Linked DNA regions of Homo sapiens: all the other regions are linked to region 1. Evidence: fine-mapped expression QTL. A gene starts in region 1. Each other region holds a variant in brackets. All regions are shown on one strand. Distances are from middle to middle. Region 1 holds the start of RUSC2 (RUN and SH3 domain containing 2). Region 2 has its middle 8.5 kb from the start of CIMIP2B. Region 3 overlaps RUSC2 (RUN and SH3 domain containing 2). Region 4 overlaps RUSC2 (RUN and SH3 domain containing 2).

The links. PIP is the estimated chance that this variant, and not a neighbour inherited with it, causes the effect.
Region 2: its variant is fine-mapped to the expression of RUSC2 in monocytes (Fairfax 2014, PIP 0.95).
Region 3: its variant is fine-mapped to the expression of RUSC2 in whole blood (TOPMed, PIP above 0.99). The same link has a PIP of 0.9 or more in blood mononuclear cells.
Region 4: its variant is fine-mapped to the expression of RUSC2 in monocytes (TOPMed, PIP 0.94).

The regions. Positions count from the first base shown.
Region 1 is chr9:35,486,437-35,494,542 of GRCh38, reverse strand. RUSC2 (RUN and SH3 domain containing 2) reads right to left here and starts at 4,432. Exons shown (of 12, transcript NM_014806.5): 1 at 4,371-4,432. It overlaps LOC105376026 (a long non-coding RNA gene), which reads left to right and starts at 2,916. Exons shown (of 2, transcript XR_929580.4): 1 at 2,916-3,112; 2 at 3,287-3,424. RefSeq lists a silencer at 4,464-4,763.
Region 2 is chr9:35,568,309-35,576,414 of GRCh38, reverse strand. No RefSeq gene overlaps it. Among named protein-coding and RNA genes, the nearest start is that of CIMIP2B, 8.5 kb to the right of the region's middle. RefSeq lists an enhancer at 6,783-6,942. The variant G/TG (reference allele first, on the strand shown) is at 4,659.
Region 3 is chr9:35,546,863-35,554,968 of GRCh38, reverse strand. It overlaps RUSC2 (RUN and SH3 domain containing 2), which reads right to left. Exons shown (of 12, transcript NM_014806.5): 2 at 6,434-8,106. Among named protein-coding and RNA genes, the nearest start is that of CIMIP2B, 13 kb to the left of the region's middle. The variant C/T (reference allele first, on the strand shown) is at 3,532.
Region 4 is chr9:35,521,492-35,529,597 of GRCh38, reverse strand. The region is part of intron 1 of RUSC2 (RUN and SH3 domain containing 2); the gene reads right to left. Among named protein-coding and RNA genes, the nearest start is that of RUSC2, 35 kb to the right of the region's middle. The variant T/C (reference allele first, on the strand shown) is at 3,525.

The sequences.
Region 1 (8,106 bases):
TTCATTAGAGAAATATGAATCAAAATCATGAGATATCACTTCACACTGCTTAGGATGGTTATATTACTATTATTATTTTGAGATGGAGTTTTGCTCTGTCACTCAAGCTGGAGTGCAGGGGCATGAGCTCAGCTCACTGCAACCTCAGCCTCCCCGGTTCAAGCCATTCTCCTGCCTCAGCCTCCTGCCTCAGGGATTATAGGTGTGCGCCACCATGCCTGGCTAATTTTTGTATTTTCAGTAGAGATGGAGTTTTACCATGTTGGCCAGGCTGGTCTTGAACTCCTGACCTTAGGTGATCCGCCCGCCTCGGCCTCCCAAAGTGCTGGGATTACAGGCGTGAGCCACCATGCCCAGCCTAGGATGGTTGTTATTTAAAAAAAAAAAAAGAAAACAAGTGTTGCCAAGGATGTGGAAAAATTGGAGCCCTTATGCATTGCTGATGAGAATGTAAAATGCTATAGCCACTGTGGAAAACAGTGGTTCCTCAAATAAATAAATAAATAAATAAACATAAACATAAAATTACCATACAATCCAGCAACACCACTTCTGGGTATATACCCACAAGAACTAAAAGCAGGGACTCAAACATATCTGTACACTCATGTTCACATCAGCATTTTTCATAATAGCCAAAAGATAGATGCAACCAAAGTATCCATCAAAAGATGAATAAACAGAATATAGTGTATACATACAATGGAATATTATTCAGCCTTTAAAAGGAGTGAAATTCTGGCCAGGTGCAGTGGCTCACACCTGTAATCCCAGCACTTTGGGAGGCTGAGGCTAGTGGATCACTTGAGGTCAGAAGTTCGAGACCAGCCTGGCCAACGTGGTGAAACCCCCTCTCTACTAACAATACAAAAATTAGCCGGGCGTGGTGGCGTGCACCTGTAATTCCAGCTACTCAGGAGGCTGAGGCATGTGAATCACCTGAACTGGGAGGCAAAAGTTGCAGTGAGCCAAGATCGTGCCACTGCACTCTAGCCTGGTTGATGGAGGGAGACTCTGTTTCAAAAAATAAATAAATAAAAATAAAAGGAGGGAAGTTCTGATACAGGCTATAAAGTGGATGAACTTTAGACATTATGCTAACCAACTGCAGCACTATTTACAATAGCAAAGCCACGGAATCAACCTAAATACCCATCAATGACAGACCAGATAAAGAAAATGTGGTATATATACACCATGGAATACTATGCAGCCATAAAAAAGAATGAGATCATGTCTTTTGCAGAAACATAGATGGAGCTGGAGGCTATTATCCTTAGCAAACTAACAGAAACAGAAAACCAAATACTGCATGTTCTCACTTATAAGTGAGAGCTAAATGATGGGAATGTATAAACACAAAGAAACAAACAGCAGACACCAGGGTCTTCTTGAGGGTAGAAGGAGGGAGAGGAGCAGAAAAGATAACTATTGGGTACCAGGTTTAATACCTGGGTGATGAAATAATCTGTACAACAAACCCCTGTGAAATGAGTTTATCTATATAACAAACCCTCATATGTACCCCTGAACCTAAAATAAAAGTTAAAAAAAAACCCAAAAAACAAAAAAAGGCATTATGCTAACCGAAATAAACCAGTCACAAAGAGACAAATAGTGCATGATTCCACTTATATGAGGTACCCCCAGTAGTCAAATTCAAAGATAGAAAGTAGAATGGTGGTTGCCTGGGGCGGAGTAGGGAGAAATGGGGAGTTAGCATCTTACTGGTACAGAGTTTCAGTCTGGGAAGATGAAAAAAAGTTCTGGAGATTGTTATCAGTAATGGTTGTACAATAATGTGAATATATTTAATGCCACTTAAGAATTATTACAATGGTAAATTCTATGTTATATATATATATATTACCACCATAAAGAGTAAATATGGTACAGCACAGGTTCTGCTGAGTTATTTTGTTGTTGTTAGGATTCCCTTCTACCCCATCACCTAGCTCTATCAGAGCAATGTTGACATCTGGCTACTCAAAATGATGCTCTCGTTTCGTATGACGGACTCATTTGACAAAAATTATATTAAATGCCAATGTCTGAATGGGTGTTTTTTTTTTTTCCTGGGTAACTTCAACACTGATCAATCAAGACCATTTCTAGATAGCCTGCCCTTACCCTAACATGAAGTGAACCATCTCTTCAGTCAAGTGACTTTTAGCAGGGTGCATAGTCATTGTGTATGAGTAACAGGAAGAAAAGGGTGAGTTATTATCCTAAATTTGCAGATAAGCCCAGAGAGAAAAATAGAACACATAAGCCCTCCCATGAACTTGCCAGATTTAGCAAGTAAAAATACAGGACTCCCTGTTGTTTATTTGAAATTCAAATTTAACTGGGCACTCTGCGTTTTATCTGGCAACACTGAAGTATTGGAGGTGAGGAGAAAAATAACCCAGGGTGTTCTGGGGTAACTGAGGTCTTAACAGGAAGCCTAGACAGGAAAAAGTAGAAAAGGCCATTAAAAAGATACTGTTAAAAAAAAATTGTATTGCTTAATCCATCCAGATCAGGAGCCCCTCCCCACACTGGGTTTCTATGATCCAAGGCTTTATTTTGAGACAGAGCATTGCTCTGTCACCCAGGCTGGAGTGCAGTGGCATGATCTCAGCTCACTGCAACATCTGCCTCCCAGGTTCAAGGGGTTCTCCTGCCTCAGCCTCCTGAGTTGCTGGGACTTCAGCCTCCTGAGTTGCTGGGACTACATGTGCACACCACCATGCCCGGTAATTTTTGTATTTTTAGTAGAGATGGGGTTTCACCATGTTGGCCAGGCTGATCTTGAACTTCTGACCTCTAGTGATCCGCCCACCTGGGCCTCCCAAAGTGCCGGGATTACAGGCTGAGCCACTGTGCCTGGCCTGATCCAAGACTTTATAAAGACATGTAAGAGGGTGGGAGACAGAAAGCGGAAAAGGATACATCAAAACTAGCAATGGATGAATGAGAACATGTCCAGCCTCCAGTTAAGGCAACTGTGGCTTCAAAAAGGAATCTTAAATACCAGCACAGAAATCAGAGGGATCCTAACCTGGCTCAAAACAGAAGAGAAACAGTGGCTGGCCATACAGCAGGACGGGCATAACTAACAGAATACCAGGTATACTGTTTGGATCTGCTCTTCCTTCCATTAAGCCATCCACCACTGCTTAATATCTAAGGAGCCGGCTAAGAAAATCCAGTCACTACTTTTATTTGCTAATACTTTGAGCCCCAGTTACAATAATGCCACTACTAATTAGGTAACTACTTTCTACCTTATCAACTCCTACAGCTTTCCAGCCATTGTTTCATCCCTCAGCGATACCACCTGCTTCCGCGTGGAACCCAAACCCCCAGGAAACTAAATCTGCTCAGGTCACCCACCTAGGAATAAATAAAAACAGGTTTCAGGCCCTTTGTCCTTTGTAAATTCCGCCTTTTTTTTTTTTTTAAGGCCTGTGTTCTTTATCACGGACACTGTTCACATAGTGGTAATCCTTGCCTGACTCAGATCTACTTGTTCCTGCGTTTCATTCCTCCGCTGCTCAATTACTTGTTCAAAACGCAAAGGACAACTGGTAGTGAAGACCCTCCACCAGCAACACTACCATGTGCCAGGCACCGTGCTGGGGACCGGGGATACAAAGATGAGTAGTGTACCGTCCTTGCCCCCAGGACAGTTCCCCGTGTCCGCAGGGCCGGCCTGGAGGGCCACAGCCAACTGTGGGCAACAGGATCACCGTGCCCTTCGCGGCAAGTGAGTGCAGTAGTAGGGGACGGTTACTGCCAAGCCAAAGGTTTTCTCCAGGTAAAACTGGATGACAGAGAGACAGAGACTGAAGCAACGCCGGCGCCGGGCGGATAATAAAGGGAGGCAGGGGCTAAAAGGGTGGAGGGAGCAGAGGACCCGGCCGGGAACTGGCAGTAGGGAGGCCCCCGCTGCAGTCGCCGGCCTGGGTGCCGGGCGGCCACGCTTCCCCAAAGCCGTCACAGGGACTTGGGGTACCAAGGTGACTACTGGGCGCGAGTCGTTTTGTGGGGGGAGGGTGTCCCCAAGGGGGCAGTTTGAGGAGACGGTTGGGGATGCATCTGGGGTGGCGCCCAAAGGGACGGTGGGTGCTGGGTGTTTGAAGGTCCGGTGGACGCAGAGCTGAAGGGTCAGGAGAAGGCCAAGGGTCAGAAGGGCTGGGGACGAGGTCTGCCCAGGGGGTCGGGGCGGACGCAGAGGGCGGGTGCAGCCGAGGGGGAAGGGCTGAAGGGAAGGGCAGGCGCTGAAGGCACATAGGTGGGAAGACAGGCCCTCCCCTAAGGGAGACCTTGGAACGCGGGGCAGTGGGTCTGTGGGACCCTGCCCGCCTCCGGAGAGGCGTTCCTACCTCGTTTCTCGCCTCAGCCTCGTCCTTCCGCGCCGGCGGCGGCGGCGGCGGCGGCGTGTCTCGCCCTCCAGGGGTCGCGTTGCAGGCTAGAGGCGCCGGCGGCCCCTCCCTCCGGGCGGGTTGGAAAGGCCGGCCCCTGTCGGCGTGGCGCGATGGTCCGATCTGGGTTGCCCTCAGGCCGCCCCTCCGGGCGGCGCGTTGGTTCGGTCCGCCCGGCCTAAGGTGCTCGCCCCCTCCCCGGCTCCCGCAGCGATGGGCGCAGCCGAGTCACGCGCAGAGCTTTCCCGCTAAGGGAGCGGAGAGGCTTCCGCCGTGGCCCAATCTTCTGCGGCCCGCGCCCGCCCCCGCGGGGTGGTGCCTGGCGACGCGCGGCTCCCGGGTGCTGGAACCCAGGGAAACCTTCCGCGGGCCTCCAGGGCCGGTGGGTGTGAGTCCCAGCTTCGCCTGAGGCGGCGGTTCTCAACGCTGGCTTCCCAGTAGAACCTAGTGTGGAAACTAACCAAACAACAGAAGGAGGGCTGACCTCACACTGGACCGACTCAGAACCACTGGGGTGGAGTGGGGTGGGGTGAGGTGGGGTTGGCCTCCAGTGCATAGCCAGGGTTCGGAACCCCTGATGAAACGTAGAACCCATGCGCCCCCTGCCCTTCAGGGCCGGATGTGTGGGGGACATGGAAGATGCCTGTGTGTGACTCCTGCTGTTTACAGCCAGAGGGGGATGGGGCAGGCAGTCCTGCAAATGTTATGGGAAACCCACTGTATTAGTCCGTTCTGACACTGCTATGAAGAAATACTATGAAGGAAAGAGGTCTGACTCACAGTTCCGCATTGTTGGCGAGGCCTCAGGAAGCTTATAATCATGGCAAAAGGCAAAGAAGTAGCCATCCTTTTCGCAGGGTGGCAGGACAGAGTGAGTGCAGGCAAGGGAAATGCCAGACGCTTATAAAATCATCAGATCTTGTGGGACTCACTCACTGTCACGAGAAGGGCGCAGGGGAAACCAGCCCCATCATCCAATTACCTCCACCTGTTCCCGCCCTTGACACAGGGGGATTATGGGAATTACAATTCAAGATGAGATTTTGGGTGGGGACACAGCCAAACTGTTACAGGTAGTTAGGCATGAGCGGGGCAGGAGAGGGTTCTCCCCTGCTACCCACTAGGGATGTTGGGTGATGGTTCTGAGGCAGGAGAATAGGGACTGGAGGCAGGGAACCTAAGACTGGTTCATGCCAACTTCCTGGAACTAAATTGAAAGGAAAACCCTAACTTTCCACACCTAAGTAACAAACCCCCCACCCAACTTTTCTGCCCAGCAGATGGGAAATTGGCTATCTGCAACCAATTAGACTGACTGCAGCCGAGTCTAACTTTGCATAGAAGTATAACTTTGTAACTTCACCCTAGCCTCTGATTGGTTGCTTCTTGCAACCAATCAGATGTTTGCACAGGTGTGCGACCTTTGTAACTTCACTTCAGCCTCTGCTTGGCTGCTTTCTGCAACCAATCAGACTGATTGCAGGCTACGAATTCATTTACATGAGGTGAGCATGAAGTGGCGGGTAACTTCTAGGGGGTATTTGGACCCAAGAAGATTCTGTTTCCTGGCCCTTGAGCCGCTGCTCCGGCTGCTCCCACACTGTGGAGTGTGCTTTCGTTTTCAATACATCCCTGCTTTCCTTCTTTTGTTCCTTCATTCTTTCTTTGCTTTGCTGGGCGTTTTGTCCAATTCTTTGTTCAAAACGCCAAGAACCTGGACAACTTGCAGTCAGACCCTCTACCAGTGACAGTTCCATAATTACCTCATTGCTTCTTTAAAAAGGATAATTCGGCTGGGCCAGGGAGAGGCCATTTCCTGATGGTCCACACATGTTAACATCAAAATGCTAATTGAATGCAGGCCTCAGGGAGAAGCAACTTTCTGGGCATGCGTGTTAAGAGACAAAAATGGTGACGTATGATCTCCTGGGGGCACCCTCCACCGGAAAACGGGAAGGAAAGCACTGCGCATTCGGGAAGCCCACTCTAAGGGAAGAATCATGGGAAAGAGGCCAGCCTGTAAAAGTCCTAGGATCTTGGTTAGGCACTTGACCTTCTCTCTTTAACCTTCACGTGCCCGCTTGGGTTTCTTCCAAGCGCACCTTCCTTTCTTTCCTGTTCTAAGGCCTTTTTAAATAAACTTCCATTCCTACTCTGGAACTTGCCTTGGTCTCTTTTTCTGCTTTCTGCCCCACAGTCGAATTCTTTCTTCTGATGAAGCAAGGACTAAAGTTGCTACAGACCCATAAGGATAGGCTGCAGGTAACTTGGGGTAACTCAGACCTCTTCCACCACTAACAAAACCATATCACCCATTGAGAAGACTCTTAGGCTAGACGCGGTGGCTCACGCCTGTAATCCCAGCACTTTGGGAGGCTGAGGCGGGCGGATCACCTGAGGTCAGGAGTTTGAGACCACTAGCATGGTAAAACCCCGTCTCTACTCAAAATACAAAAATCAGCCGGGTGTGGTGGCGCATGCCTGTAATCCCAGCTACTCGGGAGGCTGAGGAAGGAGAATCACTTGAACCTGGGAGGCGGAGGTTGCAGTGAGCTGAGATTGCGCCATTGCACTCCAGCCTGGGCAACAGAGCAAGACTCTGTCTCAAAAAAAAAAATAGAAGACTCTGTTCTAGGTTCCATACTCACTGAAAGAGTTAGAGACTGGGGTCACAGTCAAGGAAGCAGATAAATGTCAGGATATGTAGCTTGTCTTCAGGCTTCACAGAAGTGGTGTGAGCTGAATTTTGAAGAATGAGTGGGAGGTAAAGAGAGAATTGGCATGTGCAAAAGAACTGAGGGGCAAAATGACCAATGTGATTGAGAAGTGTGGGAGGCAACGGAGACAGCTGAGGAGAGCTGGTCAGGGTTTGGTGATGAAACGCCTATGACTACTAAGGAGTTGGGAGAGATACTGAAGGGCTTTATTGCAGAGGCAGGAATGACAAGATCAAATATGAATGTTAGAAATAAAGTTCTAAGGGCTTAAATAAGGGTGACATGGAGAGAGCTAGCATTGCCAGTGGGGAACCAATGAGGAATTGCATGTTTGCACAGTGTGATCCCCCAGTTAAATAGTCTGGGTTGGGGAATTAAGCCAAACCAGGCCAATTAGAATTACTTCTCTAAGAATTTGGAATTGGGAGACAAAGAGCTACATCTCTGCTCAGACTTAAATTGGACTTAAGGGTAATTTGGGAGCTATGCAGTAGTCATCTTCTACTTGCCCATTTGGCCTGAGCAGCATTGAAAACCAGTTTGCTGAGAAAGAAGATCAATCAGTTGCACACAGAGAAGCAAGTCTAGACACAAAAAGACTGCTCCCTAGGTTCTTGGGACCTTCCAGCAGCTGGTTCCACTTCTTTCTGAGGCCCAGCAGGATTCCTTCCCCAGGATCATGATGCATCCTTCTATCCATTCATAGGAATCTCATTTTTGGCTTCAGCGAGTGTGGGTTACTTCCTGTTGTTTGTGTTAAAGAATAACTTTCAAAAAGGTAAAATAATGAGCCTTATGCAAGTATTTTTATTTTTTATTTTTTGAGACAGGTTCTCTGTTACCCAGGCTGGAGTGCAGTGGTGCGATCATGGCTCACTGCAGCCTCGACTTCCGGGCTTCAGCGATCCTCCCACCTCAGCCTCCAGAGTAGCTGGGACTAAAGATATTTTTTGCATTTTTGGTAGAGACAGGGTTTTGCC
Region 2 (8,106 bases), 82 kb before region 1:
TACGGTAAGGGGCTTGCAACTGGCTGTCAGGAAAACAATAACTTCTAACTTCAGGGCAGAAAAAGTTGATACCAATATTCCCGTAGTGGGTGGGGCTATAACCTATAATCCTAGAGGGAATGTCAATCCTGAAAACCCCAGAGCATCTGGGAGTGGCCTATCATACCAATGCTGGAAACCCAGAGTGCCTGTTTCAGCCAATGAGGGTCCCCTCACCAAATGCCAAAAACCTGGGGGCACCAAGGGAGTGGCCAACAGTGAACCCAAGACCAAGTTGGGGTCATAGAACAATGTGACTCTGGTGTCCCAGAGTTGACGCAACAGAGCACAACTAAACATCCAGCCTTAAACAATTGCTCAAACACAGTTAACAGAAAGTCAAAAGGAAACATAACGCTTCAAATGAAACGTAAATTTTTGGACTCGAAATAAAAATAAAATGATTGGTGGAACAATAATATGGAGTCAGAGAAGAAAGCACAGGGGGGAGAGGTCACAAGGATGTGCCTCAGGGCACTCATACTGTGGGGGACTTTTAACCACTTAGCCGAAGGCTTTTTATTCCCCAGCTCACTAGATGTTATGGAGTAGGGGAAGAAGGGACACTTACCCATCCATAGGAGCCAAATGGCACCAGCCAGTCTTTCATGTGGGACCCTGGTGAAGGTCCCTCCAGGACCCCCCAGCTTGGGTGGGCTCAGCTGTCACACAGGGGGCAAGCATAGGGACTGGTAACCCACTGGCCTGCCATGGTCAGAGCTCACATGAGGCAGTGACATTATGGCCATTAGTGTGTCTGCTTGGCCCTGCCGCCTGCCAGGGAAAATGATGGCTCTGAAAAGAGCCTTTGGTTAGTGTTAGCAGCTCTTTATTGTTACAGCCTCAGTGTTATAGCTCTTGCAGCCTTGATCACAGACCGCTTTGCGGTCTCTCGCTGTCTCTGCTTGGTCTTGTCAGTCTCTCACTGTCTTCCCAGTTGCTGTCTCTCATAGTCGTCACCTCTCCACTGACCGCTGATTGCCACCGTCTCTGCTGTCCCACCATCTCACCTGTCTGCTGACTGCCACTGTCTCCACTGACTTGCTGCCTCTTGCTCATTATCTTTTTCCTTTCATTGATCACCAGATGATGGGAGGGCAGGTGAGCCCCCAAATTGGGGCTTAGCCTTGGGAGGTTCTTAGCTTTGCCCAGGAAAGAAAATCCAAGGATGAGCCAGTGGTGTTAGACAGCAACTTTTATTGAAGCAGCAGTGTATACTTAAAAAATTTGGTAACAGAGTACATCTTTCTTTTCCCATTATGCTCTTCCAAGATCCTAATAAACCTGCAGAGGTACTGGTCCTTGTGGAGCAGGGCTGTCCTATAGGCTGTATGCTCAGAGCAGCAGCTCAGAGGCAGTGCTGCATTCAGATTTATACCCACTTTTAACTACATGCAAATTAAGGGGTGGACTATGCAGTAATTTCTGTATGTAAAGGGTGGTAACTTCCAGTTCATTGGGTCATTGCTGTGGAAAGGGGTGGTAACTTCTGGGTGTTGTCATGGCAATGGTAAACTGACATAGCACACTGGTGGCCATGTCATATGGAAAACCACTTCTGCCCCATCCCTGTTTTAGCTAGTCCTCAATTTGGTCCGCTGCTGAGCCCTGCCTCTGGAGTCCAGTCCCACCTCCTACCTCATTATCTTGATAGTATTTCAGACTACTCAGGTAGAGTGAATTCCATCTGCAAATCACGCATGAGCCAGCTTGTAGTTATGAAGTTTTAGGGGAAATATGTCCCCCTTTTTCACTTGGTACCAAGTTTTGAGATAGGCAATTTTCTTTGTAGTCCCCTGAGGAAGGATTTGGGGGGCAGATGGATTTCTAGGGGCAAGGTGGGGTGCGGTGACTCATGTGTATAATCCCAGCACTTTGGGAGGCCAAGACAGGCGGGTCACTTGAGGTCAGGAGTTTGAGACCAGCCTGGCCAACATGGTGAAAGTTAGTCTCTACTAAAGTAAATACAAAAATTAGCTGGGTGTAGTGGCGGCGCCTGTAATCCCAGCTACTGAGGTGGCTGAAGCATGAGAATTGCTTGAACCCAGGAGGCGGAGGTTGCAGTGAGCCGAGATTGCACCACTGCCCTCCAGCCTGGGTGACCGAATGAGACTCCATCTCAAAGAAAAAGAAAAAAAAGACTAAAGGGACATAACTTGATGCATGCCAGTTTTATGCAGGAAAAATTTTCTGTTAGACTCTCCATCTTGGGTGGTCACTGAGTTTTATCTCCTTTTCTCAGTACTTCATGAACCTGTGAAAATGAACCTCCAAGTTTGTGTGGCTTGGCCAATGCCATTAAGCCAAAAGTGCCTTCTATCCTTTGCCTAGTTTTTGGCCTCTGATGATTTCCCTTTTTAAAAAATCACTTTATTGACATACAGAAAGTTGTACAGCAGGTTCTCAAATGATGTTTCACTCACTGTTGTTACTTTATAACATTGATATGAAAAAATATTTTATTTTTATCATTTTTTAAACTTTTTATTTTTATAGAGACCGGGTCTCTGTCACCCAGACTGCAGTGTGGCGGTGTGATCATAGCTCACTTACAGCCTCAAACTCCTGGGCTCAAACGGTCCTCCCACCTCAGCCTCCTGAGTAGCTGGGACTACAGGTGTGTACCACCTTGCCTGGCTAATTAGTCCAGATAATTAATTTTAATTAAATTAATTTTTTAAATTTTATTTTTTATTTTTGTAGAGAGGGGGGTCTCCCCGTCTTGCCTAGGCTGGTCTTGAACCCCTGGGCTCAAGTGATCCTTCCACCTCAGCCTCGTAAAGTATGGGGATTACAGGCGTGAGCCGTTGCACCTGGCCAGGGGAAAAAAAGGTTGATTCAGGCCAGGACCACTGTCTATATGGAGTTTGCATGCTCTCCTCATGTACGGTAAACTCTCGTACCCATCATTTCACATCATTTCTCTGAAAGTTGCAATTTCCAAGAACCTATTGACAATACTGAGGACTTACAATACATATTTAGTGTATACAGCTTGAACTTGGAGGTAAGTATAGAACCATGAAACCAGCGCTATAGTCAATGCCGTAAACATATCCATCATCTCCAAAAGTTTCCTCCTGCCCAATTTATTTAGTGATAAGAACACTTAATATAAGATCTACCATCTTATGGTTTATTAGTATCTTAGAAGAGCATAATGGAAAAAAAATCTACCCTGTTAGCAAATTTTTAAATATACATTTTTCAGTATAATTTAAAAAAAATTTTATAATAATACAATATTATTAACTATAGGCTCTAAGCACAATGTTGTGCAGTAGATGTCTAGGACCTACTCCTCTTGTATAACCAAAACTTTGCACCCTTTGATGAATACCTCCCCCTTTCTGTCTCTCCATAGCTTCTGGTAATGGCCATTCTGCTCTGCTTCTATGAGTTCGACCTTTTTTTTTTTTTTTTCCTTTGAGACAGTGTCTCACTCTGTCACCCAGGCTGGAGTGCAGTGGCATGGTCTCGGCTCACTGCAACTTCCACCTCCCAGGTTCATGCAATTCTCCTGCCTCAGCCTCCCCAGTAGCTGAGATTACAGACATGTGCCACCACCCCTAGCTAATTTTTGCATTTTTAGTAGAGATAGAGTTTCACCATGTTGGCCAGGCTGGTCTTGAACTCCTGACCTCAAATGTTCCGCCTGCCTTGGCCTCCCACACTGCTGGGATTACAGGCATGAGCCACCACACCTGTCCTTACGTTTTATTGTTTTTGTTTTGTGTTATTTTTGAGGGGAAGGTATGTTCTTGAAGACTCCTTTCTTTGTGAGAGCTGCAACACCTCACATGACCTATGTAATATATAGTTGATTGCTGCAGATAATCTTCTGAACTATCTGCCATAATGCTGGAAGTGGAAGTCCTCCAGTGTGTCATCTAACTGGTAATGCTGCCTAATAAAGCTATTGATATTTGAATATATTTTTCAGGTAATAAGCATCTTACAGTACTCTTATTAGTTCTCATTGTTCTTCAGTTGCTTCTCAGGATTTTGTAGTTAGGCCGATGATGATTCTTTTCTTTCTTTCTAATATTTATGGTTCTTATTAATTATTTTTGTTTTATGCATTGTCTATAGTAACTTTGAATAGTAAAGGTGATAATGAGCATTCTTGTCTTGGTTCTGACTTTTATAAAGTGAAGGACTATGAATCCGACATGCTGGCATTCATCTTATGCCCATGGCAAACAAACATAGTTAATCCTTCTTAGTACCTTTTCCTGCTAAGCTATGGCCCTGTTTCAGAAGCTCCCCAGTAACATTCCCATAAGTGACTATAGCTGATTTGATTTGGTACAACAGATAAGATTTATTTCCCAGTCCTCTCTCTGATGTTTCTTCTGGATATAGTTTGATATTGGCTATTCATTTCAAATATTCTTTATCATGTTTATATTCCTGGTTTACTAAAAGTCCTTTTTAAGGAGAATCACAAGTAGATATTTAGTTTTATAAAATACCTTTCCAATATCTGCCAGGGTGATCAAATGGCTTTTATATCCTTTGGTTTATCATATGTTAATTGCACTAAGAAATTTTCTAGTTTAATCACTGTGGTAGTTCTGGAATAAATCCTACTAGTCTCTTTTTTTTTTTTTTTTTTT[G/TG]AGGGTCTCTCTCTGTTTCCCAGACTGGAATGCAGTAGCACAATCATGGCTCACTGCAGCTTTGACCTCCTGGGCTCAAGCAATCCTCCCACCTCAGCCTCCTGAGTAGCTGGGACTGCAGGAATGTACCACCACATCTGGCTAATTTTTTATTTTTAGTAGAGACAAGGTCTCACTGTGTTGCCCAGGCTGATCTCAAATTCCTGGGCTCAAGTGATCCTCCTGCCTTGGCCTCCCAAAATGCTGGGATTACGGGCATGAGCTACCACACTTGGCTCTACTAGTCTTAATGTATATTATTCTTTTACAATATTACTAGACTTGTGTAGTTCATACTATGTGCCAGACACTTGTGCTTGATGCTGAGGATATAATCATGAACAAGATAGACAGACATGGTTTCTGCCCTTACTGAGCTGTCAGTCAATTCAGGGGTGATAAAGAGCAGAACATTTGCCACCACTCCCCTCATCTGAAGCTTTGGCAGAAATCACTCAAAACATGCTGTCTTGCAGAGTCTTGGAAGATCTCAGAAAGGGGACTGGGATCCTTTATTGGCATCTGCTATGAATTGGAGGAAAGATGACAGTGATAGTAAGCATCCTGCTTTTTTGCTGTTGCTAGTTTGATGTTTTATTTGGTGGCATTTTTTATCTGTAGAACTTGTGTGAGGTTTGTTAGGTATTGAATTTGTTGTCTTGAATTAAGTTTTTGCTAATTTTGTAAATCAAGTGGCGTGTGGGTCTTTTGGTAGGGGCATCTACTTGACCACTTTTTCCATTCTTTCTTTTTCTTTTTGAGACAGGGTTTCCGTCACCCAGGCTGGAGTGCAGTGATGCAATCATGGCTCACTGCAGCCTCAGCTTCCTGGGCCGAGGTGATTTTCTCACCTCAGCATCCTGAGTAGCTAGGACTACACGCCACCATGCCTGGCTGATTTTTTAAAAATTTTTTGTAGAGATGAAGTCTTACTATGTTGCCCAGGCTGGTCTAGAACTCCTGGGCTCAAGCAATCCTGAACCTTGGCCTCCGAAAATGCTGGGATTACAGATGTGAGTCACTGCACCTGGCCCAATTCTTTCTATTGTTATTTTATTCAGATGTTCCATCATTTTGAGTTGATTTTGATTTATATTTTCCAAGACAATATTCATTCTTATTGACATTTTCTAGTTTATTTATATAGAGTTTCACTAGTATTCTTTTGTAGTTAAAACACAAATTCCTGGCTGGGCGCGGTGGCTCATGCCTGTAATCCCAGCACTTTGGGAGGCCGAAGCAGGTGGATCACGAAGTCAAGAGATCAAGACCATCCTGGCCAACATAGTGAAACCCTGTCTCTACTAAAAATACAAAAATTAGCTGGGCGTGGTGGCGCATACCTGTAATTCTAGCTACTTGGGAGGCTGAGGCAGGAGAATTGCTTGAACCCCGGAGGCGGAGGTTGCAGTGAGCCGAGATTGCGCCACTGCACTCCAGCCTGGCGACAGAGCGAGACTCCATCTCAAAAACAAAAACAAAACAAAAAAACCCCCCACAAATTCCTATGTGCCTGTTTTTAGCCACTTCCTCAATCTGTTAGGGGTGTTGTATAGTCTTTCTCTTGGCTAACTTTGCCAGCAGTTTGCTTGTTTTGTTGTTGTTTTAAACAACTCTTATAACAGTTCAATTGTTTTTCTGTTTTCTGATTTATTGGTTTCTATCAGTTTCATTCTCCTATATTTGTTAGCTTTATGACGTTCTTCTTTTTCTAGCCTTTTGAATTGACTGCTTAGTTATTAGCTAGTTAATTTAGTTAGCTGGCTAGTTGCTTTTAGACTCATTTGCCTGGCTAGTCTGTCTGCAGCCTGTCCTGCTGAAGCCATCATGGTCTGCACACATGCCCTCCTCCCTCCCCAGCTGCCTGGTTGAGGTGGTGGCCTCTGCATCTGCAGTGAGGCCAGGCCGAGAGAGATGAGTGAGGTCAGGATGGTGATGCTCACCTGTGTCTGTTTCTCTTTCCTTCTGGGACGCATGGGAGACTATACTTCTGAGTTGCAAAATGTGAACAACTGGTAAGTCAGGTAAAAGTGACATTTGTCTTGCAACTTTTCTATAGGTTTGATATCGAAACTCTGGGTAATTCTGCAGCACACTCTGCTTAAGCAATCACTGTTGTAGAGATGATGGGGGATGTGGGGTGTAGAAATTTCCTGATGAACACATGCATACCAGAGTTATCAGGGAGTAGAAACTAATAGTGACAAGTCCATTTGGAAAAGGGAGCGAGAGAGACAGATAGAGACAGACGGAGTTGAGCAGATGTGCAGAGAGAAGCACCTGGCCCCAGGGTGAGAGTGAAAATAGCTGCCTCAGCTCCTGTTCACTTTCACGTTCTCAATTCCCGTTTCACGAGGCCTAGCTATATGGCAGTCTGTACAGTATACAGTTCCTTCCTTGGATACTCAGGAAATCTATCCATTCTTAAGATATCCTCTCTTCCTTCCACTCTTGGCTTTCTTCTTTTACTTGGACCAGCCAAGGTAGGCAATTGTTTCTTAGAGCAGCTCCCACTAGAACATTTGTTAGTAATGATATTGATAGTTTATTTATTATTGTGCTTTATTGTACCGTTTAAGTTAATCCTTACACTATTAGCATTTTCATTTTATAGAGGAGGGAAAAAGAGATACAGAGAGGTTTGCTAACTTGCCCAAGGTTGTACAGCTCATAAGTGATGGAGCCAGGATCAAGCCTATATATATATATATATTTTTTTTTTTTTTTTTTTTAATTTTTTGAGACAGAATCTCTCTCTGTCGCCCAGGCTGGAGTGCAGTGGTGCGATCTCAGCTCACTACAAGCTCCACCTCCCTGGTTCACGCCATTCTCCTGCCTCAGCCTCCCCAGTAACTGGGACTACAGGCGCCTGCCACCACGCCCAGCTAATTTTTTATATTTTTAGTAGAGACGGAGTTTCACCGTGTTAGCCAGGACGGTCTTGATCTGACCTTGTGATCCACCTGCCTCGGCTTCCCAAAGTGCTGGGATTACAGGTGTGAGCCACCACACCCAGCAGGATCAAGTCTATATTCTTAATCATGAGGCCAGTATGTGTTTGAGGCTAAAAGTTGCCTCTGAATTCATCTTTGATTGAATTCTCATTTATTTATAAATAATTGTGTATAACTGGAATTTTTTCTTTGCCCCAAGGGTTAAGGTGTTTTTGTTTTTTTTTTAATTTTAATTTTTATTTCTTTAAGAGACAGGGTCTCACTGTGTTGCCTGGGCTGGAGTGCAGTGGCTATTCACAGATGTGATCATAGCGCCGCCCTACAGCTTCAAATTTCTGGGCTCAAGCCATCCTCCCGCCTCAGCTTCCCAAGCAGCTGGGATTACAGGAATGCACCACCACGCCCAGCTCAAGGGAGTATTTTTAAATGTCTAAGTGTTAGGTTGGTTGTTTGTT
Region 3 (8,106 bases), 60 kb before region 1:
GGCAGGGACCTGGCTGGCAGGAATTGAATGGGGTAGAAGTTCGTGGAATGGGACACTGCTCCCCTCTTTTGTAAAACGCTTCCTATTGCTTTTATGGTGCTGGACTGTCTTGTACCTCTCTGCTGTTCAGTCCCTCTTCATTTTCTTGACTCCAAAGGTGAGTGTATCTTAAGGCTCAACTCTTGCATCTCACCTTACACTTTATTTCTTGAGAAGTTTTGAGTTCAGACTTCTACGGGATGACTCCCAAACCCACAGCTTTAGCCTGGACCTTCCTCTTCATCTCCAGATCATTCTGCTTTATAGTTCTGCTTTCACTTAAAATGTGCTATAACCGCTTATCCATCACCTTTCTCCTTTTTTCCGATGACTTCCATTTCTATCAATGGCAGAACCATTTTCTTTGTTTCTAAGTCTTGGAGTCACAGTCACACACATTTTCAGTGATGAAAATGTTTCAGATGTTACTGACTTCAAGCTTTTGCTCATTATCCCATCTCCAATCATGCCAGCACATTTCATTCCTGAGCATATCGAACCATAGTAAGATATTTCTTTACTTGCAGCCTACCTGTTATCTGTATCTACCCCCACTCCCACTCTTTTCACGATCCTGGCATTGGAACCTCAGAGTCCACATTTGCTCCCCCTGAACGGAGGTATGTTCCCCAAGGCTGGGCCTCTCCTGTTCTTTCAGGCAGTCTTCAGGTCAATGTCCTTCAAAACGTGGTGCTCAGAACTAAACACAAAACTCCAGGACACTGGAGTGGGACAGTGGATGGACTGCACTTCCAACAAAACACTGTAGATCTCCGAATAAACGTAAGATGGCGCTATAAGCACGCACCCGGCCTAAAGCCCTGGTGAAAGCTCACCAGCAGTGGGGCTCAGTAGCTCTGCGAGGCGGGAATTAGTTCTCTTACTTGACATATTAGGAAATGTGAAATGTAGACAGATTAAAGCACTTGCTCAAGGTCAAACAACTAGGAAGTGGCAGAGCTAGAATTCTGCCTAACCCAGAGTCTGATTTCAGAGCCACTGTTCTTTTTACCACATTGTACTACATGTGAAATTGTATCAGGCCAGGTTTTCCTATCCCTCATCTTATTTACATCAAAGAGTCAGAGGGGATGGGGACCACAATCCCATTAGGGAGGTGCTTCTGAATCACTCCCAGGGGACACTTTCAAGCTCCACCCTCCTGCTATACCCAGTCACTGCTTACACAGACTCTGCATTCTCCCTGGCCCACTGTGCTCCAGCCACACTTCCCCGTCCTTAAACACACCAGATGCATGAACATCTCCGGGCCTTTTGCACCTGCTTTTCTTTCTGTCTGAATCTTCTCACCATTCAGGCATCAGCTCAAATATCACCCCCTCAATAAGACCTTCTCTGACTACGTCAGCCCCTCTGGCAAGTTGCTCTCTATCCCATTACCCTGTTTCATTTTCTTTTCAGCATTGTTGAACTTTCCAGCAATTAAAAGTTGTCCTTTTAATGTGTTTATTGTCCATTACTGCTCCTAAGAGCTCCAGAAAAGTGGGGATTTTATATTGTTCACTGCTGGATCCATAATGCCTGGAACAGAGGCTGGCACACAGTATGGAGTGAAAAACCATCTGTTAAATGAGGGAATCTCCACGGTCACTCTTGATTCAAGCCAGTCTCACTACAACCAGAAGCTTCTTACATACACCAACTAGCTTCTGAGATACAAATTTTATCTCCCAGAATAAAGTCTAATCTTCTCAGTGAGCTAGTTGCCCACACCTGCTACGAGCTAGGCTGCTCTCCCTTCAGACTTCCACACCTGCCCCCACTGACCCTACTCTTCCCAGTCCATCCCTGTCATGAAGCCCACTGCTTTTCCCATCAGGAATGTGTCCTTCCTTTCCGCCTATTTAAGTATCAGTTTTCAAGGCTGAGCTGACTCTGGCTATCGGATTAGGTCATCCCAACCACAGCATTATTATACCCCCTATACAAAGTATGTCTGAATTAGACTGCTTATTCCTACCCTTTTAAAACTCCTCTCTGCTAAGTTCCCAGGATACAGACTGAGGCAGAGGAATAAGATCAGGTAAGAAGGGGGCCCCTGTGGGGAATGGGTCTTAGTTCTACCCTCAGGGAATACACAGAATAAGTTTTCTCACTTTTCTATGTGACATTCATTAAGAAAACCAGAGACAGAGACCGTATTCACCCGAGTCAGTTTTTCTCTAGGTTAAATAGCCCCAGTCCCCCAGTTCCTCAGTTCCTTCTTAAGATGTGGTACCCAGAACTCAATGGAATACCACTGAGCACTCACTGGTTCGGAGGAGTGAGAGACTATCCACTCTTTCTTTCTGGAGTCTATGAATGAATCCAGTCATCTTAACTTTTTGGAAGCTCTACCAACTGCTGACTCAATCTGAGTTTGCAATCAAATATCCCAAATCAACTCAAGTGCAGGTTACATATCAAACTTCACATTGGTCTCTGCTTTATTAGTTTTGTTCTTTCAAGATTCAGTAAGATCCCTTTAAATCTTGATTCTGCTGCTCAGTATCTCAAAGAGCCGTCTCAGCTGCCTTTTTTATTTTTATTTTTTAATTTACTTTTTTCTGAGACAGAGTCTCACTTTGTCACCCATGCTGGAGTGCAGTGGCGTGATCTCAGCTTACTGCAACTTCCGCCTTCCAGGTTCAAGCGATTATTGTGCCTCAGCCTCCCGGGTAGATGGGACTACAGGCGTGCGCCACCATGCCTAGCTAATTTTTGTATTTTTAGTAGAGATGGGGTTTCTCCATGTTGGCCAGGCTGGTCTCGAACTCCTGGCCTCAAATGATTTCCCCACCTCAGCCTCCCAAAGTGCTGGGATTACAGGCATGAGCCACCACACCTGGCCTACTTTAATTTTTTTTAGAGACAGGATCTCACTTTTTGCCCAGGCTGGGATGCAGTGGTGCAATCATAGCTCACTGTGCCTCAAACTCCTGGGCTCAGGCGATCCTCCTGCCTCAGCCTCCCGAGTAGCTAGGACTACAGGCATGTGCCATCACTCCCAGCTGTTTTTAAATTTTTTTTTCTGTAGACACAGGGTCTCACTATATTGCCCAGGCTGGTCTCAAACCCCTGGCTTCAAGTGATCCTCCTGCCTCAGCCTCCCAAAGTGCTGGGATTATAGGTGTGAGCCACCATGCCCAGCCGACCTTCTCAGCTTCCTATACTGTCATTCCTAGATTGGATCAACCTGTCCCTTCTTTTGTCATTCAAAGCTTGATGAATTGTCATTCATTTTTGATTTAGAAAAAAGCTGTACAGAATCAAGAGAAGACTGGAGACTTATGGAACAGAGCAGCATGTTGATATGTCTTAATCTGATAGAGAAAACACATCTCTGACCAGGATATTTCTTGCCCTCAGAATGCCAGTCATAGTATCCCACGAGATGCACCCAGCAGACAGACACTGCAGTCTAAGGGAGTGGGTTCAAAGGACCCAGTCAATCCTTGCTGTTTCTGATCCTGCCCCTTCCCTAGAGATCTC[C/T]CTCCCATGCCCACCCCAAGGACAGCTCTTCAGTGTATGTTAGGAACATGAAGTCTTCTGATGGACTGTGATCTCCCTGACAGCACAGATATTATTTATGGTTTTAAAACATTTTCTTTTGTGAAGCCAACAGACCCAACCTAAGGCTACAGCACAGCTGTGAGCCTCTGCTATCCCTGCTTTACCTCCCTTTCCTTCTAAACCCTCTGAGATCTGGCTTCCACTCTCACTACTCCTGAATGTTGCCTTCAGGATTCTTCATTATCTTAGGTGATTTCTCTTTAGAACTCTTTTGGTTCAAACTTTTTTTAAACTTTCTCCTCCTTTGGTTCCTGTGACTTCACTCTCTCCTGGTTTTTCTTTTTTTTTGAGACGGACTCTCACTTTGTCACCCAGACTGGAGTGCAGTGGCATAATCTTGGCTCACTGCAACCTCTGCCTCCCAGGTTCAAGCGATTCTCCTGCCTCAGCCTCCCATGTAGCTGGAACTACAGGCACCCGCCACCACACCTAATTTTTGTATTTTTAGTAGAGATGGGGTTTCACCATGTTGGTCAGGCTGGTGAACTCCTGACCTCAGGTGACCCGCGCACCTCGGCCTCCCGAAGTGCTAGGATTACAGGCATGAGCCACCATGCCCGGCCTCTCCTGGTTTTTCTTCTATTGTCCTAATTCTTCTGTCTCTTTTGAGGGTGCTGCTCATCCCTTAAGTCACAGTATCCCCTTCTTCCCTTTATAACTCAACACATTCTCCCTGGATCCTCTCTCAGCCACACACATAGCTTCAGCTACCACTTTTGTTTTTTATTTTTGAGACAGAGTCTCACTCTGTTTCCCAAGCTGGAGTGCAGTGGCATGATCTAGGCTCACTGCAACCTCTGTCTCCTGGGTTCAAGCGATTCTCCTGCCTCGGCCTTCCATGTCGCTGGGATTACAGGCGTGCACCACCACACCCGGCTAATTTTTGTATTTTTAGTAGAGATGGGGTTTCACCATGTTGGCCAGGCTGGTCTTGAACTCCCGAACTCAGGTGATCTGCCTGCCTCAGTCTCCTAAAGTGCTGGGACTATAGGTATGAGTCACCACGCCCAGCAAGTGCCAGCTACCACTTTTATTCCAATGACTTTCCAATCTACACAGTGCTTTCTCCTGACTTCAGGAAGACACCCCTTCCAGTCCATCTTCTACCCAAACAACCAGTGATCCAATTACTTTTTTTTTTTTTTTGAGGTGGAGTTTCGCTCTTGTTGCCCAGGCTGGAGTGCAGTGGCGTGATCTCGGCTCACTGCAATCTCCATCCCAGATTCAAGTGATTCTCCTGCCTCAGCCTCCAGAGTAGCTGGGATTACAGGCATGCGCCACCATGCCTAGCTAATTTTTGTATTATTAGTAGAGATGGGGTTTTACCATGTTGGCCAGGCTGGTCTTGAAAACCTGACCTGAGGTGATCCGCCCGCCTTGGCCTCCCAAAGTGCTGGGATTACAGGTGTAAGCCACTGTGCCCAGCCCAATTACTTTTTTTTTAAACAAGGCCTGAAGGAACAACCAACCAGTGATCTTTCTAAATGCAAATCAAAACATATAATTAAGCAGACAGAAAAACCAAACCAAACAAAAACAAACAAATGCCAAAAGCCATTTCTCTAAAATTTTTCAGTGGTTCCACCTGTGTTCCACTATGGCTTCACCAAATTATATGCAGTTCCTAGAAAGGGTCAAGCTATTCTGTGCCTTTGTGGTTTTGTACAGACAATCCTGTGAGCCTAGAACATTCTTCTTACAAGTCGTCACAAAGCCCAATCCTAATCATCTTTCTAGATTGGGCTTAAATGTAACTGCATTAGCAGTTCCTCCCTGACGTTTCAGTCTGATTTACATACCCCTTTCACTGGCCAGTACGGAACACTGCCATCTCTGCATTTTAATGATCAACTACGTTTTCTGTTTCTGTCCTTAGCTGGAATCCTTGAAAACAGAGTCATCCCTCTCATCTCTCTGTCACTAGCACCACCTTAACACACTGGTATAAAATATTTATTTAAAATGTAACAAAATAAATAGGGAAAGAGCTGGCCTAGGGAGGCCACTGCACTCCAGCCTGGGCGAAAGAGCAAGACTCCGTCTCAAAAAGAAAAAAAAAAAAACTTCACTGACGCCCAGTGTGTGTGTGTTGTTGTTGTTAGACATATCCCTTGGTTGCCCCTTAGGCACTGCAAACTCCTAAAGGTCTGAACCTGAACTTTTCTTCCAGGAAATCTCCTGTGATTACAGCCCCTATCCATGGCCTCATCTTTCCCATCATCCAGGTTCAGAATCAGTCTTCTGAATCCTTCATTTCCCAATATGTCAGCCTCTAAGTCCTGCTGATTTTATCTCCTCAGTGTATTTATTTATTTTTTTTTTTTGAGACAGAATCTCACTCTGTCTGCCCAGGCTGGAGTGCAGTGGTATGATCTCAGCTCAGTGCAACCTCCACCTCCTGGGTTCAAGCAATTCTCCTGCCTCAGCCCCCTGAGTAGCTGGGATTACAGGTGGGTGCTACCACTCCTGGCTAGTTTATTTTTTATTTTAGTAGAGCTGGGGTTTCATTATGTTGGCCAGGCTGGTCTCAAACTCCTGACCTCAAGTGATTCGCCTGGCTTGGCCTCCCAAAGGGCTGGGATCACAGGTGTGAGTCACTGCACCCAGTCTGCTCAGTGTATTTTTGAGTCCTCTGTCTTTCTCCAGTGAGCCTATTCCACTGTAGCTGTGGGTCCTGCCCTGGCCTAGAAGGATAACAGATCTAGGATGTGGAACCTCTAGTGGTATGGATGGGGTGGTCTGGCAGGGACCTGTCAGGGAGGTGGCCATGCATATCCTGCTGGTGAATAGCCACATATTTGCTAACCCTTAGGCTCCTTACCGTCAGCTCTAGCTCTTGCATCCCTCTGGGTATGGCTGTTGGCTGGGCTCCCTGGGAGAGCAGGCCCTGGATCCATCAGCTGAGCCAGGGGGCCTTGCCCAGTAGCTCTGAGGCCAGCAGGAGGCATCTCACTGGAGTGGGGTCCCTGACAGACCTGGGTGGACCAGGGTGGACTTGGGTCTGGGCCAAGTAGGTCCATGCCTGGCCCCAAAGGCATGGGTGGCAGGCTATGGCTACAGCAAGTGCCCTCATCCAGTGGGGCCCCCCGATCTTGCTGGGCTTCTTGGATGGGTGAGAACTCCTGGGAGGAGTCCCCAACACTCACACGAAGTGGGGGCGAGCCAGAGCCTCCAGTTTTCTTCCGGCCCTTGGCCAGCTCGGCAAAGGAGGTGACCCTCCTGGGTGGGGAGCCAGGCCCGGCCATGGCTGCAGGGCCCTCACTCAAGCGCACTGGGCAACTCAACATACGTTCCAGCGAGCCCAGGCGGACAGGAGGGCTGCGCTGCAGGCTGCGATCATAGCTGCGGGAGCGCTGACGTCCAGTGCTGAGGTTGGGGGGTGAAGTATTCGTGTATACTTGTCCCTCAAGCACAGTGGGGCCCACAGCAGCTGCTGCTTGGGTGGAGGAACTCACTGCTTCTTGTTCCTCTGGCTGGACTTCTGGCTTCTGGAATAGGTAATACTCAGAGGGCTGGCTGGGGCCTGGGTCTGGGCCAGGGCCTGGTGGGGGACTTATCTTGGTGTGTTCCTCAGAGCAGCTAGTGATGGAAGAGCCAGCAGGGCTTGGGGATGATTGGGAAGATAGGTCACAGGTGACAAGTTTATAGTAATTTTGTGTGGCCACAACAAGACGGGCCTGGCTTTGGAAGCAGGCTGTGAGGTCAGCCACTGCTGGGCACGGCTCACAGTGTGGGCGGTAGGAGTTGCAGTTGGCATCAAGCTCAGGAGAAGAGGCATGAGGGCAACCATAGCCCCCTTCCCTTCCTCCACTTTCAGGGTGATGGGACTCATAAGACATCTTAGACTCAAATGGGGAGGGCTGCAGATCCAGATAGAAGGCGCCAGGGTCTGAGTGGCTGCAGAAGGAAGAGTCGCTGCAGGACTGTGGGGCAGAGTTGAGATTGGCACGGGGGGTGCCATGCATCTTGTTGTAGAGGGTGCTGAAGGTGACCAGCACACCATCTGAACTGTTGCAGGAGGAGTCGCTCACATAGCCCATGGACTGGTCAGCTGCCTCGGACTGACTGGATGTGCTACTGCAGCGGCAGTGCTGGTCCCCTGAGCCGGAGCATCCAGGGTTCCTTGGGGATTCATCTGAACTGAGCTTCCATTCCTGGTCAAAGGAAAAGCCAGAGGTATCGCTGGCTCCACCCCCACTGCCACTCCCACCAGGTCCCCCACACTCATCCAGCTCCATAGTCTCTGCTTCCAGCTCTGGCCGGCAGCAGTGGCTGGTGCCGCACTGCTGAGTATCCAAGGTCATCACTGGCTCCTGTTCCTGCCCTTCCACCACTCCAGCCCGACTGCGTGTTGTCCCCCATGGCCTGCCCACTCTGGGGCCAGATGGTGGCAGCTGGAAAGAGGATAGATGAAAGTTGGGCTGGCCAGTGCCATGCAGGTGGAAGGACTGCTGGGTGGCACTGTCACCAATGCTGTCATCATACAGGTCACCA
Region 4 (8,106 bases), 35 kb before region 1:
CTTGCACAGTAAAAATGCCATCATAAACATTAGCAAAGGCTGCAAAGTGACAGACTGACTGTCACATCTAGTATGTCAATAGGTTTTATGTGCTTTGCATAGTAAAAATGCCACCATAAACATTTTGGGGATTTCTAGAAAAAAATCTAGATTTCCAGCTTGTTTTGCTTGAAAAAAAACCAAAAGAACTGGCTACACTAGGCCCTCATTCCTACATGACTAACAATCAGCTGGAGCTGAGAAGTGGTTCCCTTCATTAGATGAGCACGTGACCTTCAGTTTGCCGTGTTCCCAGCACTCCTCATGGCAGCTTCACTGGTTCATTTTACTTATTTGCATTATTTGTCTGGCTCCTATAAGGCATCTGAGTTTGCCAACTCTTGCCCCAGAATAACAGTTATGCATTTTCTTTATATCTCTACCCTCCTTGATTTGCCTCATATTTCCCCAATGATGTTCAATGCAATATTACTTGCAACAGAGAAAAATTGAGAATATTCTAAATATCCAATGGAAAAATGGCTAGTGAGCTACCCATGTAACGGAATATAATAGAACCATTAATATTGGGTATACAAGGTATATTCAATGGTATCGAAAAAGGCTTTTAAGCTAATTTATTTATTTTTTGTTTTCTTTTTTAAACTTTTTACAATTTTTTTTTAAAAATTTTTTTAAAGATGGGGGTCTCATTATGTTGGTCAGGTCTGTCTTGAATTCCTGGCCTCAAGAGAGCCTCCCACTTTGGTCTCCCCAACTGCTGGGATTAAAGGTGTGAGACACCATGCCCGGCCCTTTTAAGCTAATTTAAAAAGTAAAATATCAGTGCTTTGAGAGACTGAGGAGAGAAGACTGCTTGAGCCTAGAAGTTCAAGACCAGCCTGGGCAATAAAGCGAGACACTGTCAACACAAAAATTTAAAAATTAGTTGGATGTGGTGGCACATGCCTATGGTCCTAGCTACTTGGGAGGCTAAGGTAGGAGGCTGACTTGAACCCAGGACTTTTGGGCTCCAGTGAGCTATGATAGCGTCACTGCACTCCAGCCTGGGTGACAGAGCGAAACTCCATCTCAAAAAAAAAAAAAAGGTATCAAATCGCATAAAGAGAATTCTGCTTCCCACATTATGGTAATCAAGACATTACAGGGCCCCTTTCACTGCAAAATATGAAAAATATGAGATCCTGTATAATATATACTTTTTTTTTTTTAAAGGAATAGGGTCTCACTCTGTCACCCAGGCTGGAGTGCAGTGGCCCAATCATAGCCCGCTGCAACCTTGAGTTGGGCTCAAGCAATTCTCCTGCCTCAGCCCCCACAAGTAGGTGGGACTACAAGCATGTGCCACCATGCCTGGCTAATGTTTAAATTTTTTGTAGAGATGGCATCTTGCTATGTTGCCCAGGCTGATCTTGAACTTCCGGCCTCAAGGAATCCTCCTGCCTCAGCCTTCCAAAGCGCTGGGATTATAGGCATGAGCCACAGTGCCTGGGCAATATATACTTTTAAAAGCATTTCAGGTCTCTCAGTATATAGGAGACATCTCTGTGACTACTCTACCCAATTCCCCAAAAAGGGAAAAATTCATGAGCTATGCAGTAAGCAAGGGGGAGAACCAGGGTTCCTTGTCAGCCAATTCCCAGAGCATCACTGCAGCCAAGATGACCATACTTGAGCCACTGGGAAGGTGAGGGAGCTAAACCTGAGAGTTCTGCATTAAGCAGAAACAGGGAAGCCTGAAGGAAGTTCATCATGATCCATGGTAGGTGGTGTTCCACAGCTTTTGGTAGAAGCAGATATGAATCTTCTCTGGGGGAAAATATTTCCCAATCTAAGTCAACAAAATTCTCAAAATTAAAGATCAAGAAAAATTAGTTTATAATTAATGATCACAAAGATGCCATGAGCAAATAACAGAGAAAACAATAAATAATGTATTTAGATTGCAAGAACTTCAGATACCAAAAATGTCAGTTACAGAATATAAATCAGCTATGTGTGAAATGTTTTAAAATAAAAGATAAATCTCAAAGGTAAGCGAGTGGCAATGAATTATTAGAAATAACCAGGCAGATCTGAAAAAGAACGAAATATGTTCAGAAGTTAGAAACATAATTATTAAAATAAAAACTCAGCCAGGTGCAGTGACTTACACCTGTAATCCCAGCACTTTGGGAGGCTGAGGCAGGAGGATTGCTTGAGGCCAGGAATTTGGTAAGAGCCTGGGCACCATAGCAAGACTCTGTCACTAGATACATACACATGTACATACATATGCAAGCAAGCAAGCAAGCAAGCAGAATGTGGTGGTGCACACCTGTAGTCCCAGCTACTTAGAAGGCTGAAGTTAGAGGACTGCTTGAGCCTGGGAGATTGAGGCTAAAGTGAGCCATGAAAGCACTACTGCACTCCAGCCTGGGTGACACAGTGAGACCTTGTCTCAAAAAAGAAAAAAAAAACAACGAAAGGACAAATTTAACAGCAGAAAAGACAAAGTTGAAGTGAGAAATTAGTGAACTGGAAGATCGATCTGAAGAAATCACATAGAAACAGCACAAAAAAACAAAGGAACAGAAAAGTGAATGAGAAGTTAAGAGATAAGATAGAATGAAAATGTTTAATATACTTATAATCAGAATCTTTGGTAGAGAATCAAGGAGAGGTAATATTTGAAGAGATAATGACAGATAATATTTCAGAAGTTATTAGAAAACAAGAATCCATGGATTCAGGAAGTAAAACTATCTCAGGATAAAGAATATCAGTAACAAGTATCTAAACTGTACATCAGCAAAAATTTTTTGTGTGGCTTTTATTTTGTTTTGAGACAGGGTCTCTCTCTTTTGCCCAGGCTGCAGTGGCACCATCCCAGCTCACTGCAACCTTGAACTCCTGGGCTCAAGTGATCTTCCTGCCTTAGCTTCCTAAAGCTCTGGAATTACAGGCATGAGCCACTGTACCCCACACCAAGTAAAATCTGAATGCAATACATTTAATAGTTAACAAGATGAGGTAATATCTGTTTGAGTGTTGTGTAATCCTAGGCCAGTTATCTTGCCTTTCCCTGCCCCCATTTCCTGTAGAATGGTGATGAAAATACCACCAACATTAAGTGAATTAATACTATCAAGCACTTAAATTGTGCCTGACATACAGTAAATACCCAGTAAGTGTGATACTATTATCAAGTGATAAGATGTTGGTTAATATCCAAAACCCCCACAAAGGAGATTACACAATTCTGACCAAAATAGGACGGTAACCTTGGAGAAACATGAAAAGACTGGATATGGATACCTTTCCCCACTCCTCAATCCCAGCATCTTCCAGAACTCAGTAGTGGTCTGGGCAGCTTTCATAAGCAATAGAGAGATCCAGGGTGCTCAAAATAAAGCAGGCATGAATATAAACATTGGTTACTGAGTCTTCCTGTGCCTGGACCAGGCTACTTTATGGGGAGTTGAAGGCTTAGGGGAAACATATGCCCCCTACTATAGATCTGAACAGTGGTCTATTCAAAACAG[T/C]ACATGAAAGTGCTCTGTAAACTGACCATTTTATAGAAATATAAAGCACTGTTAAAATGCTAGGAACTCACTCTGCATGGCCACCACCCAAGCAGTTGGGACTACAGGCACGTGCCATCACGCCCAGCTAATTTTTGTATTTCTTTTCTTTTTTTTGGTAGATAGGGTTTCATGTTGCCCAGGCTGGTCTCAAACTCCTGAGCTCAAGCAATTCGCCCACCTAGGCCTCACAAAATGCTGGGGTTACAGGCAGAAGCCACCACACCTGGCCTAAAAAATATGTTTAAAGGTGGCTGAGGCTTGCTGGAGTGCAGTGGTGCGATCTCGGCTCACTGCAACCTCCACCTCCTGGGTTCAAGCAATTCTCCTGCCTCAACCTCCCGAGTAGCTGCGACTGCAGGAGTGTGCCTCCACGCCAGGCTAATTTTTGTATTTTTAGTAGAGACGGGGTTTTGCCGTGTAGGCCAGCTGATCTCGAACTCCTGGCCTCAGGTGATCCGCCTGCCTCGGCCTCCCACAGTGCTGGGATTACAGGCATGAGCCACCGTGCTCGACCAAAAATTCTTTTTAAAGGAAAAAAAAAAATAGGGATGTTGGTTAAAGTTTGTAGAAGAAGTAATTAGACACCCAGTCCCCACCAACAACCCTACACTGTCAGGAGACCACTGGTCTCCTGCTCCTCAGGATTACTGGAGATTTATTTCTGGAGAACTTTGAGTGGAACTGCATTCGACTCTGGAAAACAAGGCATGGAAGAAAGCAGGATGAGAGGCCAATCTGAAAACTGAGGGGTTAGGTGAAAATCTCCAAAGAATTGCTAGACTTCTTCCTTCTATTTCAGGATAATACCAACAGCCAGACTTATTTATCCCACCCTACCCCTGGTAGATTATTTCTCTGCAGAAACTGAACTACCTCAGAGAAAAGAATGTCAAATTCTCTGGGGGTTTCCCCACACAAAAAAAGGCCAGCCTGTTCCACCTGCCCACCAGACAAGTTTGCCAGTTGATATATCTTTCCACTCTCACAGAACCTCCAGTGTTTTTAAATGGCTCATTTTTATATCAGTAGCCAAGGGATTACCAGAGTTTTTTTTTTTTTTTGAGATGGAGTCTCGCTCTGTCCCCCAGGCTGGAGTGCAGTGGTGCGATCTTGGCTTACTGCAAGCTCCACCTCCCGGGTTCACGCCATTCTCCTGCCTCAGCCTCCCGAGTAGCTGGGACTACAGGTGCCCGCCACCACGCCCGGCTAATTTTTTGTATTTTTAGTAGAGACGGGGTTTCACCGTGTTACCCAGGATGGTCTCGATCTCCTGACCTTGTGATCCACCCGTCTCGGCCTCCCAAAGTGCTGGGATTACAGGCGTGAGCCACTGCACCCGGCCTGGGATCACCAGACTTTTGAGGGCAGCCTCCAACAGAAAACAAAGAGTACAACAAAAACATAAAATAGGAGTCTGGGAGAAACACATAATGCAGAACAAAACAAGACAAAACCCAACACATGAGGTCATTTTATCACTTTATTGATGATGCTAATTTTGAACTAGTCCTTCGTTAAGATAGTGTCTGTCAGGTTTCTCCATTGTAAAGTTATCATTTTCTCCTCTAATTAATAAGCAATCTATGGAGAGATTACTTTTAGATTAGATAAATAACCTGTTCCCATCAAACTTTCATCCAATCATTTTAGCATCCATTGATGAGTTTCATCTGAATCAGTTATTTACTATGATGGTTGAAAAATGACAGGTTTGTTTTGTTTTGTGTTTTTGAGGCAGAGTCACACCCTGTTGCCCAGGCTGGAGTGCAGTGGCCCTATCTTGGCTCACTGCAACCTCCGTCTCCCACAGCCTCCTGAGGTGCTGGGATTACAGGCATGTGCCCCATGCCTAGCTAATTTTTTGTATTTTTAGCAGAGACAGGTTTCACCATGTTGGCCAAGCTGGTCTCAAACTCCTGGCCTCAAGTGATCCACCCACCTCAGCCTCCCAAAGTGCTGGGATTACAGGCATGAGCCACTGCGCCTGGCCAAAAAATGACAATTTTCTATTATTCCTTCTACATTGATTAGTTGGCATTCTAACATAATAAAGATTTCCCTTTTCCTTCCTTTCTTAATTTATTGATTTAGGATAAATATGGACCCCTGGATTTTAAAAAGTCAGTGGGTCATAATCCATTACTGATTTTGATGTTCAGACTGCCCCAGATTTGGCACTATTTGGCTTAAATTTTTATTTTTTTTTTTTAATTTTTTGAGATGGAGTCTCCCTCTGTTGCCCAGGCTGGAATGCAGTGGCCCTATCTTGGCTCACTGCAACCTCCACTTCCTGGACTCAAGCCATCCTTCCACCTCAGCCTCCTGAGTAGCTGGGACTACAGGCATGCACCACCATGCCTGGCTAATTTTTGTATTTTTTGTAGAGACAAGGTTTCACCATGTTGCCCAGGCTGGTCTCAAACTCCTGGGCTCAAGGATCCAGCCACCTCAGCCTCCCAAAGTGACAGGATTATAGGCATGAGCCACCACGCCCAGCCACTATTTGGCTTTTTTTTTCATTGTGAAGACCTTTATTGCTGTGTATGAATTTTTAAAAGCTAACTACTTATTTTGGAATAATTTACAGTTATAAAAAGTTGCAAAGATAGTTCAGAGTTCCTGTACCTCTTTTAACCAGTTTCCCTAATGTTACCATCTTACGTAATCAAGGTACATTTGTTAAAACAAAGCAATTAACATTGAGTACATTACAATTAACTGAACTGGCAGACTTTATTTGAATGTGGCTGCTTTTTTCACTTATGTCCTGTTATTTAGCTTTATAAAAAACATTATAATTTTATAAAACATATAAGCTAATTAAAAACAAAGCCACCCTCACAAAAGATATGCAGATGTATAATGCAGGCTGCAGATAAACAGTTTAGATGTTGTTAATAAGTATAGCTTAGCAGAGAAAAGTTTTGCATTTCCCACAATCAAGACAATGAGTAGTTTTGGGAACTGTCCAAGAAGGTAATTTTTAGCAAAAGTAAGCAGTACTAATCAATAGACAGGACTATATGATTTTAGTATACCTCTATGCCTGGTCTTCCCAATAATCACTCTGCTGACCTTTCACCTCAGTACACCAGGGACAGAGGTGGATTGAAATCATACAAATCTTTGGAAATCAACAGAAGGTACTTTTGTTTGTGCTGACTTACTGGGTATCCTCTCCAACAGCGACAACCTCAGTTAAGGTAATTCCTTTTGGCTAAGTTTTCACCTCAGACTGCATGATTGATTCCAGTAGCAAAGGTCAGAAATGCTCAAACCATAACAAATCAAAATAAATTATTACATACTGTACTCTATTCTCTGATCTAGAATTATCCTGAGGCTATCAATTAATATCATCTTGTGAGCCAATTAATCAAGCAAGCAATCAAGCCACAAGCATCTACTGTATTCTTCCTGTGTATAAGGAGCTATGCTGGATGTTCAGGGGTAATAGCCCAATTTGAGGGGCTCATAATTTTGTTAAAATAATTGCCAATATGCCTCTGGAGGCCAGAACAGCAAAAAGAAAGTTTCAGGGTGTAAGGGTTAGAGCAATGCTTTTAATTTTTCAGCCCCAATACATAAAACAGCTACCCTGGTTGAAGCAGAGGAGGCCTAATGCCCCATGCACTCCAATTCCCTCTCCTTACTGTGGGGGGCCCCAGAGGCACCTCCAGGGAACCCTAGGCAAAGGCAGAACTGACCATAGTTTGTTGGGAGTTAGAGATATGGGGAGTGAAATAATTAACTGACAGAAACATCTCTCTTTTTTCATGCCTCCCAAATCAAATGTTTGTAAACAGATGTTGATTAACTTCACCAATAGCAAACCTAACTTCCCAGAACAGAAATAAACTTTGTACACGAATTTGGAAAGTCAGCTACCCTCCACCCTTGCCATGAGATTAGATGGAGGCTCTGAGTTTCCTATAGGACAAGTACTTCTCTGTGAAATGTGTGAGAGAGGCTCAAAGAATTTGGAGATTTCAGAACTGGTGGTAACAGTGATTCCTGTGGGTGTCTAGGACTGAACTGTAAAGAGAGAATAAACAAGTTCTTAGATGCTGAGAGCACCTGGCTATGGCATCAGGAGTCTGATTCCATAAATGGAATAGCAGCCAATGCCCAGGAGGTCATCTGTCTTTCCTCCAAGTAGAGTGTAGCTGCTGCTAGCTGAGGAGGCCACTGTTTCTAACTCGTATCATGTTATTTTGGACTCCAAGTGAGGCCAGACGGCATGCTGGGAGTGTGTTGAAAGGGCCTAGCCTGAAGGGCTGTCCCAGACACACCAGTTGCTGCCTTATTAGGCTTCCTTAATATAGAGTCCTCTTTCGAAGCACAGAACTTGGTTTGCTTTTGGCTTCTCACATATGTTGTAGAAAAGTTCAGCTAAACGTCCACCCCCAAAAGTCAAAGACAAACATTCCAGAAGAGGCTTGGCTCTGAAGTAGAATGGGCTTAGCAGCCTAAAAGGTAAAAGACCCCAGGCGCCCAAGGCTCCAATTCAGTAAATGGAGACTGCAGCATTGGGAAAGTA